Homo sapiens: one gene and its partners. The gene in region 1 interacts genetically with each later gene. Each region holds a gene or a part of one and is shown on either strand. Other genes may lie near its edges. The genes, in order: STAC2, RB1 and KEAP1.

Region 1 (4,114 bases):
GGTCCCAGCTACTTGGGAGGGTTGAGCCCAGGAGGTCCAGGCTACAGTGAGGTGTGATCAAGCCACTGCACTACAGCCTGGCCAATAGAGCAAGATCCTGTCTCCAAAAAAAAAAAAAAAAAAAAAAAAAAAAAAAGAAGAAGAAGAGAAGGAGAAGAAGAAATATTGGAAATATCTTGAACGGGCACAGTGGCTCACGCCTGTAATCCCAATACGTTGGGAGGCCAAAGTGAGAAGATCGCTTGAGCCCAGGAGTTGGAGATCATCCTGTGTAACATAGCAAGACTTGTCTCTACCAATAAATTTTAAAAATTAGCCAGGCATGGTGGCGTATGCCTGTGGTCCCAGCAACTAGAGAGGCTGAGGTGGGAGGATTGCTTGAGCCTAGGAGTTTGAGACTGCAGTGAGTTATGATCGCACCACTGCACTCCAGCCTGGGTGAAAGAGTGAAACCCTGTCTCTAAATAAAAAAATAAAAAAATAAAAAATAGAAGGTTATTGTGGAGAGAGGGGCACCTTGGAAGGTGATGGTGAGGACCTCTTCCCCCACCTCTCTGTATTATCCCCTGATCTAACTCCAGTTGTGGTAGGATCTTTAGGAGGGGAGCGTGTCTCAGAGAAGTTTGGGGACTTTGGGTGTGAGGACTGAGCCCCCATCTCTGCTGAAGTTCAGACGCCAAGACTGGAAGGGGATAGAGTCATCCGGCTTTCCATCACAAGGAGGAATTGTCCGGCCTGGCCTTTGACACATACACCATAGTCCAGTTGTGTGTATATTTGGAGAGAGCCTTTTCAGGGTATAAAGGCATCCAATTAATGGCACAGATGGGTCCCCATTCTTCCTTCACCAACCTCTGGCATCTATCAATCTTCGCTCTTTGGAAGTCCTAGCTTCGATCTCACTCTCCGCTATCTTGCTGCGGCCCCAACCTATTTCTATTCCCTGCAACCCATCCAGACGCTACTATGATCTCCCCAAGCTTCCCTCAATCTGGTCACGCCCCTCCATCCCGGGTTTTTCAGTGTGAAACTCCCTCCTCCGCTTCTTTCCCCGCCAAGCCCCGCCCCATCGTGTCGAGCCCCCCAAGACTCCGCCCAGTTCGCCCTCCTGGCCACCGAGGCAGCCAATAGCTGAGAGCCTGATTTGCAGGGCTGCGCGGGGGAGCGGCGTAGGGCAGGGGGCGGGACCAGGCGACCTCCTAAATCAAAGTTGGGCGGCGAGGACTGGGCGGAGGGGCCGCCGGGTGCCGGGCTGGGGCCGGCGGGGGAGGGGAGGGGATGGGGGGCGGGCGCAGCGGACGGCGGAGCCGGCTGGACACGGACAGCTCCTTGGCTCCCTCCCTCGGCTCATCCCCGCGGCCCCACTTCCCTCCTCCCCGCGCTGCGAGCAGCATCCTCTGCAGACCCTCGGTCCTCGCGCCCGGGGTCGTCCCGCTCCTGCGGCTCAGCGTGGTGGCCTCCCCTCGCCCGCCACCCCGGCAACTTTCTCTGCCCGCTCCCGCGGGTTGGGGGCTGCCGTGCCGGGGGCTAACTGGGGGCAGCCTCTGGAGAACGGCTTCAGAGTCCCGGAGACGCCCGCCACCCGCAGCCTGCCCGCGGTGGGCCTGCCGTCGGATCTCGGCACCCTCTCCTCCCCTCTCCCCGAACCATGACCGAGATGAGCGAGAAGGAGAACGAACCGGATGACGCGGCCACCCACAGCCCCCCAGGGACCGTCTCCGCCCTCCAGGAAACCAAGGTAACTTGGGGGGCGCAAGGCCTGTCCGCGCCCCGGGCCCGGGCGCCCTCTTCCCGGCGGGGTCCTCCTGTGGGCCCGGGCGTCCTAGGGTCGCGGTCGCGAGGCCCGCGTGACCACTGAGGCTCCGCGCCGCTCCCGGGGGTAGGAGTGGGTTGGCGACGAGGGGCCACAAGGAGCCCCCGATCACACCGGCACCGCACGCCCGCGCGCGCCATCGCGACCTTCTGGGGAGGCGGCCACTGGTCTTCGTTGGAGAGATGGGCGCAGCGAGGCCGGAGGGCGCGCGTGGAGCGGTGCGGGCGGGGTACGCGCCCGGCTGTGCGTGCGAGGCGCACCCTCCAGCGGCCGCCGGGTCCCAGTCCCGGGCTCAGTCCGCGCCTCTATCCTCGCTCGTGTCTCTGAATTTGTCTCTACAACCTGCGTGTCTGTGTCTTGGTGTCTCTGTGTGCGTCTCTCCCCGTCTCTCCCGGCGTCTCCGGGTGTTTATCTCCGCGTCTCAGGGCGTCTCTCCCTGCCCCTCCGCAGTCCTGCATTCCCCGCTCCTAGCCCTGTTGGGCTCGGGGACGCGAGGCCGCGGCCGGGGGTGCGCAGCTGCGGAGTCCGCGAGGGGGCCTGCAGCAGCGCCGGCCGTCGGTCACGGGCGAGGACGGGGGCCTGCGGTTGTGGCTCCAGACCAGAAAGACAGGCAGCCCCGCGCCCCACCACGGGAGCGGGACCAGAGGAGGGGGAGCGGGTAGAAGCAAAAAGAGAAGTCATCGTAATTAATGAATGTCATCATTAACCCTAATTATGGATGATTGTTACTCCTGAGGGAGTCACCATGAATAAATTACTCCCCGCGAAGGCAGGCGGAGCCCAGACTCCTGGCGCTGAAAGGGGTGTGGGGAGGCCGCCGCTCACACTCAGCACTCCCCCGACCTCTAATCCGTCTGCTCCCTTCCCAAGTTCTAGGTGCTGGCGACTGGCCCGCGAGAAGTTCTGTTTCTGCGGGATCAACCTGAGCGGGCCTGGGGTTGGGATAGAAAGGGCTGTGCCAAGGGCGCGCCCTGCCACCTCCCAGACTTCAGGCCAAGACCTCCTCCCTCCCCCTTCACCCGGTATTTTGTTCCCATCCTGCTCCTGTTCTCCAGAGGCGAAAGGGGACAGTGAGGACCAGAAATGATGGGAGCCTGGGCTCCGGAGGCGTCCTGGGTTCGCTAGGCTTCTTTCCACTGTCCCCCTTCCTCCTTCTTCCATCTTGACCATCCCGCAGGAGCTGAGGTTAATTCAAGGTCAAGGTCATCAAGGGAGTGACCGGAGGAGGAGGCCGTAGGGTCAGGGTGGAGTCTGGCAGAGGCACCCCAGGGAGCCCCCATCCTGCACCAGGGGACCCAGCAGGTCTCCACATTCAAGTCTTCACATGCACACCTGACTCTCTCTTGCCCCCTTCTAAAAATGAGACTCTGGTCTGTGAGGCCAGAGCTGACTCCCCTTTAGAGAGCCAAGTCTCAGTCTCTCCTGGGAAAGGACTAAGATGTTTGGGTGGGAGGATATTGCTTGGAATATTTGTGACAACTTCTGTCAAGCAGAAGGTCTAGGAGCTGAACCTCCCCTGAGTTCCAATGCCCCTGATTTCGGTTGCCCTCTAGTCACCTGGGTAGACATACACAGTCCCCCTGCTTGCCTCCAGGGGCTTGGGGGCCTCCCAGGCCCTGCCCTGTTTCCCACACCAAGGCCTGTCCTCTCCAGCCTCCTCCTATGTGGGAGTGCTGGAAGGCGGGCAGGAGTGTGGGGTAGTGCTGCCTCAGTACTCCAGCAAGCTGCCTGCTCAGCTGTGTGGGGAGGGAAGGTCAAGGGCCACAGGTCTGTACCTCTCCCTCTTCCCAGGCCAGGGACCCTCCAATGTTGTCACCTCTGGGTCTGAGCTTGGAGATTCAAGGAGTAGGGGAGGGGAGGGGTTACACCCCTGATCCGGCCCTTCTGTGTCAGGCCAGCTGGAGCCCCGGCCCTCCGCCCCTCCCCTATACATCACTCTTGTGAAGGATTCTGCACTAACACAGACTGGGCTGTGGGTTGGGTCGGGGGTATTCAGCAGGGCAGAGGTGGGCAGAGAGAGAACTCAGGACCCCTGCTAGCCTCCTTCCATCCTGCACCTCAACCTGGCCCAAAGAAGCTCCTGTCTCCAGACTGTGGGTGGAGATGGAAGAGTACAGTTGGGTGCCGCCCACCAAGCTCAGTGTGAGGCAGGTACAACAGAGGGGGCCAATGCCCTTCAGGCAGTGATGCCAACATTCCAGGCTTATTCATCAGTGTTGGTGCCCCCTGGGAATCACTGGCCAGCCTCCTGCTTGCCCCCAGGCTGAATCAGCCCTGCACCCAAGCCACCCAGCAACCTTC
Region 2 (3,647 bases), on another chromosome or scaffold:
AAATAACAATAGTCACTTTCAGATGATACAGGAATATCTCAATATCAATTTCTGGGAGGAGAGGACACATAAGCCTTTAAAAAGTACTCTATGTGCTTATTTTATTTACTTATCTATTTATTTTTACTTTCACTTAATTACCCAGATTCAGAAAGTTTTCTTCTAAGTACTCCTTATCAAGTGTAAATTCATTCCATAAGTAGTTATGAAATTCAATAATAGGAGTGTAACATTCTTCTATCAATTTCCCATGTTTCTCTCCTCTATTCACTCTGTCTATATGGCAATACAAGAAAACACTAAGAAATAAATTATCGCTTAGTCATTAAAAATTCAAAACGTAAGGAAATTAAAACTAAGGTTACATGTGCAAATTAGGATTATGGCATACCTAAAGTCTTAATTTTTTAATTACCACTTCTATATACTGATACAAATTAAAAGATATATACTTAGCATGCAACACAGTTTCAAAAGAAACCATTAATTTACAAAACTGATGATTCACAAAGTATTATCCAACTATGTTGATTTGAAGAGCATAACCTCAAGTTGCCACTTTTATTAAAACAAAAGCCTTATCAATAGTTATAATGCTATAAAGAGAATCCTAGACAATATAATTTGTGCCCCTATATTGATTGAACCAATACCTATAATTGAACAATAGTATACATTTTTATACTTTAATAATGGGAAAAAATGAATCCTACTATATTTAACAAGAAAAAAATGCACTTTTTAATAATCTAAATAGCATAATCTCACAATTTAAGAGCAGACATTTGCATTTTCAAATATATAACAACTGTACTTTAAATAAATTATCTAAATACTTTAAAGAATTCTGTTTTGGTTTAGAACAGGGCCCTCAGAAATAATACCACACATCTACAACCATCTGATCTTTGACAAACCTGACAAAAACAAGAAATGGAGAAAGGATTCCCTATTTAATAAATGGTGCTGGGAAAACTGGCCAGCCATATGTAGAAAGCTGAAACTGGATCCCTTCCTTACACCTTGTACAAAAATTAATTCAAGATGGATTAAAGACTTAAATGTTAGACCTAAAACCATAAAAACCCTAGAAGAAAACCTAGGCAATACCATTCAGGACATCGGCATGGGCAAGGACTTCATGACTAAAACACCAAAAGCAATAGCAACAAAAGCCAAAATTGACAAATGGGATCTAATTAAACTAAAGAGCTTCTGCACAGCAAAAGAAACTACGATCAGAGTGAACAGGCAACCTACAGAATGGGAGAAAACTTTTACAATCTACCCATCTGACAAAGGGCTAATATCCAGAATCTACAAAGAACTCAAACAAATTTACAAGAAAAAATCAACCCCATCAAAAAGTGGGTGAAAGATATGAACAGACACTTCTCAAAAGAAGACATTTATGCAGCCAAAAGACACATGAAAAAATGCTCATCATCACTGGCCATCAGAGAAATGCAAATCAAAACCACAATGAAATACCATCTCACACCAGTTAGAATGGCGATCATTAAAAAGTCAGGAAACAACAGATGCTGGAGAGGATGTGAAGAAATAGGAACACTTTTACACTGTTGGTGGGACTGTAAACTAGTTCAACAGTGTGGCGATTCCTCAAGGATCTAAAACCAAAAATAGCATTTGACCCAGCCATCTCATTACTGGGTATATACCCAAAGGATTATAAATCATGCTGCTATAAAGACACATGCACACGTATGTTTATTGTGGCACTATTCACAATAGCAAAGACTTGGAAGCAACCCAAATGTCCAACAATAATAGACTGGAGTAAGAAAATGTGGCACATATATACCATGGAATATGTGGCACATATATACTATGCAGCCATAAAAAAGGATGAGTTCATGTCCTTTGTAGGGACATGGATGAAGCTGGAAACCATCATTCTGAGCAAACTATTGCCAAGACAGAAAACCAAACACTGCATGTTCTCACTCATAGGTGGGAAATGAACAATGAGAACACGTGGACACAGGGTGGGGAACATCACACACTGGGGCCTGTCATGGGGTAGGGAGAGGAGGGAGGGATAGCATTAGGAGATATATCTAATGTAAATGACAAGTTAATGGGTGCAGCACACCAATATGGCACATGTATACATATGTAACAAACCTGCACGTTGTGCACATGTACCCTAGAACTTAAAGTATAAAAAAAAAATCCGTTTTGTTTTAAAGTGGCATGTTTTAAGAAAAGCTATTCTTAAATAAATCACTGTGCTGTATTAGATGGTTTAGGGTGCTCGATTAAAGCTCCATTCTAATATTCCACTTGATCCTTGGGCTATAGACTGAAATAACATTATTCATTAAATTCCCTATATGTTCTTGAGGTAGATGTTAAGAAACACCTCTCACTAACAATAATTTGTTAGCCATATGCACATGAATGAATTTCTTCAATTATTTAGCTACTTACTGAGAGCCATGCAAGGGATTCCATGATTCGATGTTCACATCGTTCTAAATGTTTTATCATTTCTCTTGTCAAGTTGCCTTCTGCTTTGATAAAACTTTCGATCACTTTGTAAAAATCAAAGGCTTTTAAATTAAGCACATTCAGAATCCATGGGAAAGACAAATCTGTTCCAGAATCAAGATTCTGAGATGTACTTCCTAAAAATGAAAAAAAAAAGTAACTATTTATGAAATATTAACCCTTGAGCTAGGTATTTTTTTGGAAGTTATTATCAGACAAAGAAAACAGTAGAAAGGTTAAACCATTTTTATTTAGAGCAGAATTTTTTATTTTGGAGTCTACGGACTCATAGGAAATAGCCTTCCAATTTTGAGTGTAAGCAAATCTGTGTTTTTCCTAGAGAAAGGACTTATAGCTGATCTCAAATTTTCAAAGATTTAAATACCCTAAACTTATATCAGGAACAGGTTTAGTATCTTATCAGCCATTGGCATATCTATTTTAATTCTCATTAATCCTTGGTAAGAGGATAGACAGATTCTTCAAGATTCTGCTAATTTCATTAGTTACAAAATGGTATCTCATTAAAATATGCATTTCTTGGTTATAAATGAGGATTCACAGTTTTCCTTATCTGTTTACTAATAAGGAAACTAAAAGTTCCTCTTTTTCTGTGTTTTGCATCCTTATACAAATGTTCCTTTTGTTTCTGCAAGCAAAACTTTCTTTTAACATTTGCAACATAATTTGCAAAGTGATATACATTTATGTTTTTAAAAACATTGTAATTGGCCTTTGTTCTGTTTATCCAGTGGATTCTAGCTTCAATCTTTAGTTTCATAACCATGGAGGTTACAGCAGTGCTTCCATATCAGTAGAGGCCACTCTTGAATACTCCTTTGGCACTCTACAATCTCAAAGGTCTTCGGAGGGATTTCAAAAAGTACCTTTTTTGGATTCAGTATACCAGTATACTCAGAAGAGAAGCCTAGTGAAATATTATCCCCAAGATGGCCTCAAATAACTCAAATAAGCCTCTTAAATGGCTTATAATGACCAATTACATTCTTCAGTATATAGTGATCTAAAATAAGCATTCCTTCTCCTTAACCTCACACTATCCCTCTCCCCCGACCAAAGAAACACACCACATTTTAACTTTAAATTGAACAAAAGTGTTTATTTATGAAAAT
Region 3 (3,647 bases), on another chromosome or scaffold:
CAGAGGGGGCCTCCCCCTGAGGCCCCCATTGGCCCCCTCCCAGGTATCCAAGAATAAATCACATGGTGACAGCTGCCGGCATGGGTGAGTGGGACCCAGGCCTATTACCCGGCCAGAGGGTTTGGGGGCCTCTCTCCTGGAAGCCTGCTCTTTCCACACCCCCTTTCCCAGCCAGGCTGTCTTGGACACTCCCGGGGCTCCGCTGAGGGGCACATGATTCCCGCTTTGGACTTCTTTTGAGATGTCATTTTAACACTGAGGCATCCTGGCCTCCCTTCCCGGAAGATGGGTTATTTGCAGTGCTGTCTTTTCTTTTAGTCCCGGTTTTTGTACAAAAACAATGATACTCCCCATTGGACTGTATTTTTGCCCAAGAAACAAAAGTGCCTCAACAGGTACAGTTCTGCTGGTCAATCTGCTTCCGGCAGGGCTCCATGGTGACAGCCACGCCCACCCCACTCCGGCCCGATGTCATTCGGGTCACCTCGCTCCAGGTGTCTGTATCTGGGTCGTAACACTCCACACTGTCCAGGAACGTGTGACCATCATAGCCTCCTGCGGGAAGAACAGAAGGGATGGTCACCACCTGTCACACCACATCCAAGAGCAGGGGACAGAAAGAGAGAGATGCAGCTGTGAGATGCAAAAGCAGGCCGGGCGTGGTGGCTCACGCCTATAATCCTAGCACTTTGCAGGGCTGAGGCAGGAGGATTGCTTGAGGCCAGGAGTTCGAAGCCAGCCTGGGCAACATAGCAAAACCTTAGTCTCTTACTAAAAAAAAAAAAAAAAAAAAAAAATGGCCAGGCTTGGTAGCTCACGCCTATAATCCCAGCACTTTGGGAGACTGAGGTGGGTGGATCACTTGAGTCCAGGAGTTTGAGACCAGCCTGGGCAACATGGTGAAGCCCCATCTCTACAAAAAAACATAAAAATTTAGCCAGGCTTGGTGGTGCGCGCCTGTAGTCCTAGCTATTAGGGAGGCTGAGGTGGGGAGGATCAGTTGAGTCTGGGAGGCAGAGGTTGCAGTGAGCAGAGGCTGCACCACTGTACTCTAGCCTAGGCAACAGAGTGAGACCCTATCTCAAAATAAATAAATAAAAATAGGAAAATAGGCCACTCGCGGTGGCTCATGCCTGCAATCCCAGCACTTTGGGAGGCCGAGGCGGGCAGATCACCTGAGATCAGGAGTTCGAGGCCAGCCTCGCCAACAGAGTGAAACCCTGTATCTACTAAAAATACAAAATTAGATGCGATTGGTGATGCACGCCTGTAATCTCAGCTACCTGGGAGACTGAGGTAGGAGAATCGCTTGAACCCGGGAGGCGGAGGTTGCAGTGAGCTGAGATTGTGCCACTGCACTCCAGCCTGGTGACAGAGCAAGACTCCACCTCAAAATAAATAAATAAATAAATAAACAAAAAATAAAAAAATAAAAATAAAATAAAATAAAGGCCGGGCACAGTGGCTCATGCCTGTAATCCCAGGACTTTCGGAGGCTGAGGCAGGTGGATCACCTGAGGTCAGGAGTTCAAGACCAGCCTGGCTAACATTGTGAAACCCCGTCTCTACTAAAAATCAAAATTGGCCGGGCATGGTGGCTCACACCTGTAATCCCATCCCTCTGGGAGGCCGAGGCGGGCAGATCACCTGAGGTCAGGAGTTCGAGACCAGCCTGACCAACATGGAGAAAACCCTTCTCTACTAAAAATACAAAATTAGCCGGGCGTGGTGGCGCATGCCTGTAACCTCAGCTACTCGGGAGGCTGAGGGAGGAAAATCGCTTGAACCTGCCAGGTGGAGGTTGCAGTGAGCCGAGATCGAGCCATTGCACTCCAGCATGGGCAACGAAAGTGAAACTCCATCTCAAAAAAAAATTAGCTAGGCGTGGTGGCACGTGCCTGTATTCCCAGCTACTCAGGAGGCTGAGACAGGAGAATCACTTGAACCTGGGAAGCAGAGGTTGCAGTGAGCCAAGATTGCGCCATTGCACTCCAGCCTGGGCAACATGAGCAAAACTCTGTCTCAAAAAAATAAAATAAAATAAAATAAAAATAAACAAAAACATTAAGCTGGGCGCGGTGGCTCACACCTGTAATCCCAGCACTTTGGGAGGCTGAGGTGGGCAGATCACCTGAGGTCAGGCGTTCAAGACCAGCCTGACCAACATGGTGAAACCCCATCTCTACTAAAATACAAAAATTAGCTGGGCATAGTGGCAGGCGCCTGTAATCTCAGCTACTTGGGAGGCTGATGGGGGAGAATCACTTGAAACCAGGAGGCGGAGGTTGCAGTGAGCTGAGATCGTGCCATTGCACTCCAGCCTGGCAACAGACTGAGACTCTGTCTCAAAAAACAAAACAAAACAAAACAAAACAAAAAACAAAACAGGCCGGGCGCGGTGGCTCATGCCTCTAATCCTAGCACTTTGGGAGGCCGAGGCAGGTGGATCACGAGGTCAGGAGTTCGAGACCATCCTGGCCAACATGGTGAAACCCTGTCTCTACTAAAATACAAAAAATTAGCCTGGTGTGGTGGCATGTGCCTGTAGTCGCAGCTACTCAGGAGGCTGAGACAGGAGAATCGCTTGAACCCAGGAGGTGGAGGTTGCAGTGAGCTGAGATCATGCCATTGCACTCCAGCCTGGGCAACACTGTGAGACACCATCTCAAAAGAAAAAAAACATTAGCCGGGTGTGGTGGTGCGCGCCTGTGGTCCCTGCTACTTGGGAGGCTGAGGCAGGAGGATGGCTGGAGCCCAGGCTGTTGAGGCTCCAGCGAGCTGTGATCACACCACTGCACTCCAGCTGGGCAACAGAGCGAGACCTTGTTTCTAAAAAAAAAAAAAAAAAAAAAAAAAAGGAAAGCAAAAGCAAAAGCAGTCCACAAAAGATGGGCTAGTCAGGACTCTTCCCCGCCCCCAGGGCCTCACCAAGGACGTAGATTCTCCCCTGGTGGACAGTGATCCCCAGGGCACTTCGCCGGTGCTTCATGGGGGCTACGAAAGTCCACGTCTCTGTTTCCACATCGTAGCGCTCCACGCTGTTCAGCTGGTCCTGACCATCATAGCCCCCAGCAGCATAGATACAGTTGTGCAGGACGCAGACGCCTAAAGGGCACCATGCAGAGAAGGTGACTCTGGGGGTCTGGCTTTGGGAACCCCAGCCATCACCTCCTTGAGGGAGACCTTTCCTCTCTCCTCTCCCTTCTCACCCTCAGAAATGAAGCGGGGAGAGAGAGAAGCTTGGACTCTATCAGAATCCAGGGCTTCTGTGGTTACCCCAGCATGAGGGTTGCAACAGGGGGTCTCTCCCAGGCCTGGCTCAGTTTCACCCCAGGATGGTAGGGGGTGTTCCTGGGTGCTCCCCTCCCTACCGTCCCCACCCACCTGCCCCGCTTCGGATGGTGTTCATTGCTGTGATCATTCGCCACTCGTTCCTCTCTGGGTAGTAACACTCAGCTGAATTAAGGCGGTTTGTCCCGTCAAAGCCCCCCACGGCATAAAGGAGACGATTGAGGACAGCCACGCCCACCCCGATCCTTCGTGTCAGCATTGGGGCCACCAAGTGCCACTCATCCCGCTCTGGCTCATACCTGCAAGGGCGTAAGAAAAATGGGGACAATGGCCATTATAGCTGACCTTCGTGGAAT

What was found.
Region 2: changes in STAC2 (region 1) and RB1 together harm fitness more than expected from each alone (negative genetic interaction), as found in Homo sapiens cells (one large-scale study listed by BioGRID).
Region 3: changes in STAC2 (region 1) and KEAP1 together harm fitness more than expected from each alone (negative genetic interaction), as found in Homo sapiens cells (one large-scale study listed by BioGRID).

The regions. Positions count from the first base shown.
Region 1 is NC_000017.11:39,223,037-39,227,150, reverse strand, and holds the start of STAC2 (SH3 and cysteine-rich domain-containing protein 2), read left to right. Parts: upstream 1-1,205; 5' UTR 1,206-1,648; coding exon 1,649-1,738; intron 1,739-4,114. UniProt on the Homo sapiens protein: Plays a redundant role in promoting the expression of calcium channel CACNA1S at the cell membrane, and thereby contributes to increased channel activity. Slows down the inactivation rate of the calcium channel CACNA1C.
Region 2 is NC_000013.11:48,380,251-48,383,897, reverse strand, and holds part of RB1 (retinoblastoma-associated protein), read right to left. Parts: intron 2,652-3,647; coding exon 2,455-2,651; coding exon of another isoform or gene 2,443-2,454; exon of another isoform or gene 1-2,442. UniProt on the Homo sapiens protein: Tumor suppressor that is a key regulator of the G1/S transition of the cell cycle. The hypophosphorylated form binds transcription regulators of the E2F family, preventing transcription of E2F-responsive genes.
Region 3 is NC_000019.10:10,486,264-10,489,910, forward strand, and holds part of KEAP1 (kelch-like ECH-associated protein 1), read right to left. Parts: intron 3,591-3,647; coding exon 3,385-3,590; intron 3,106-3,384; coding exon 2,929-3,105; intron 556-2,928; coding exon 389-555; 3' UTR 1-388. UniProt on the Homo sapiens protein: Substrate-specific adapter of a BCR (BTB-CUL3-RBX1) E3 ubiquitin ligase complex that regulates the response to oxidative stress by targeting NFE2L2/NRF2 for ubiquitination.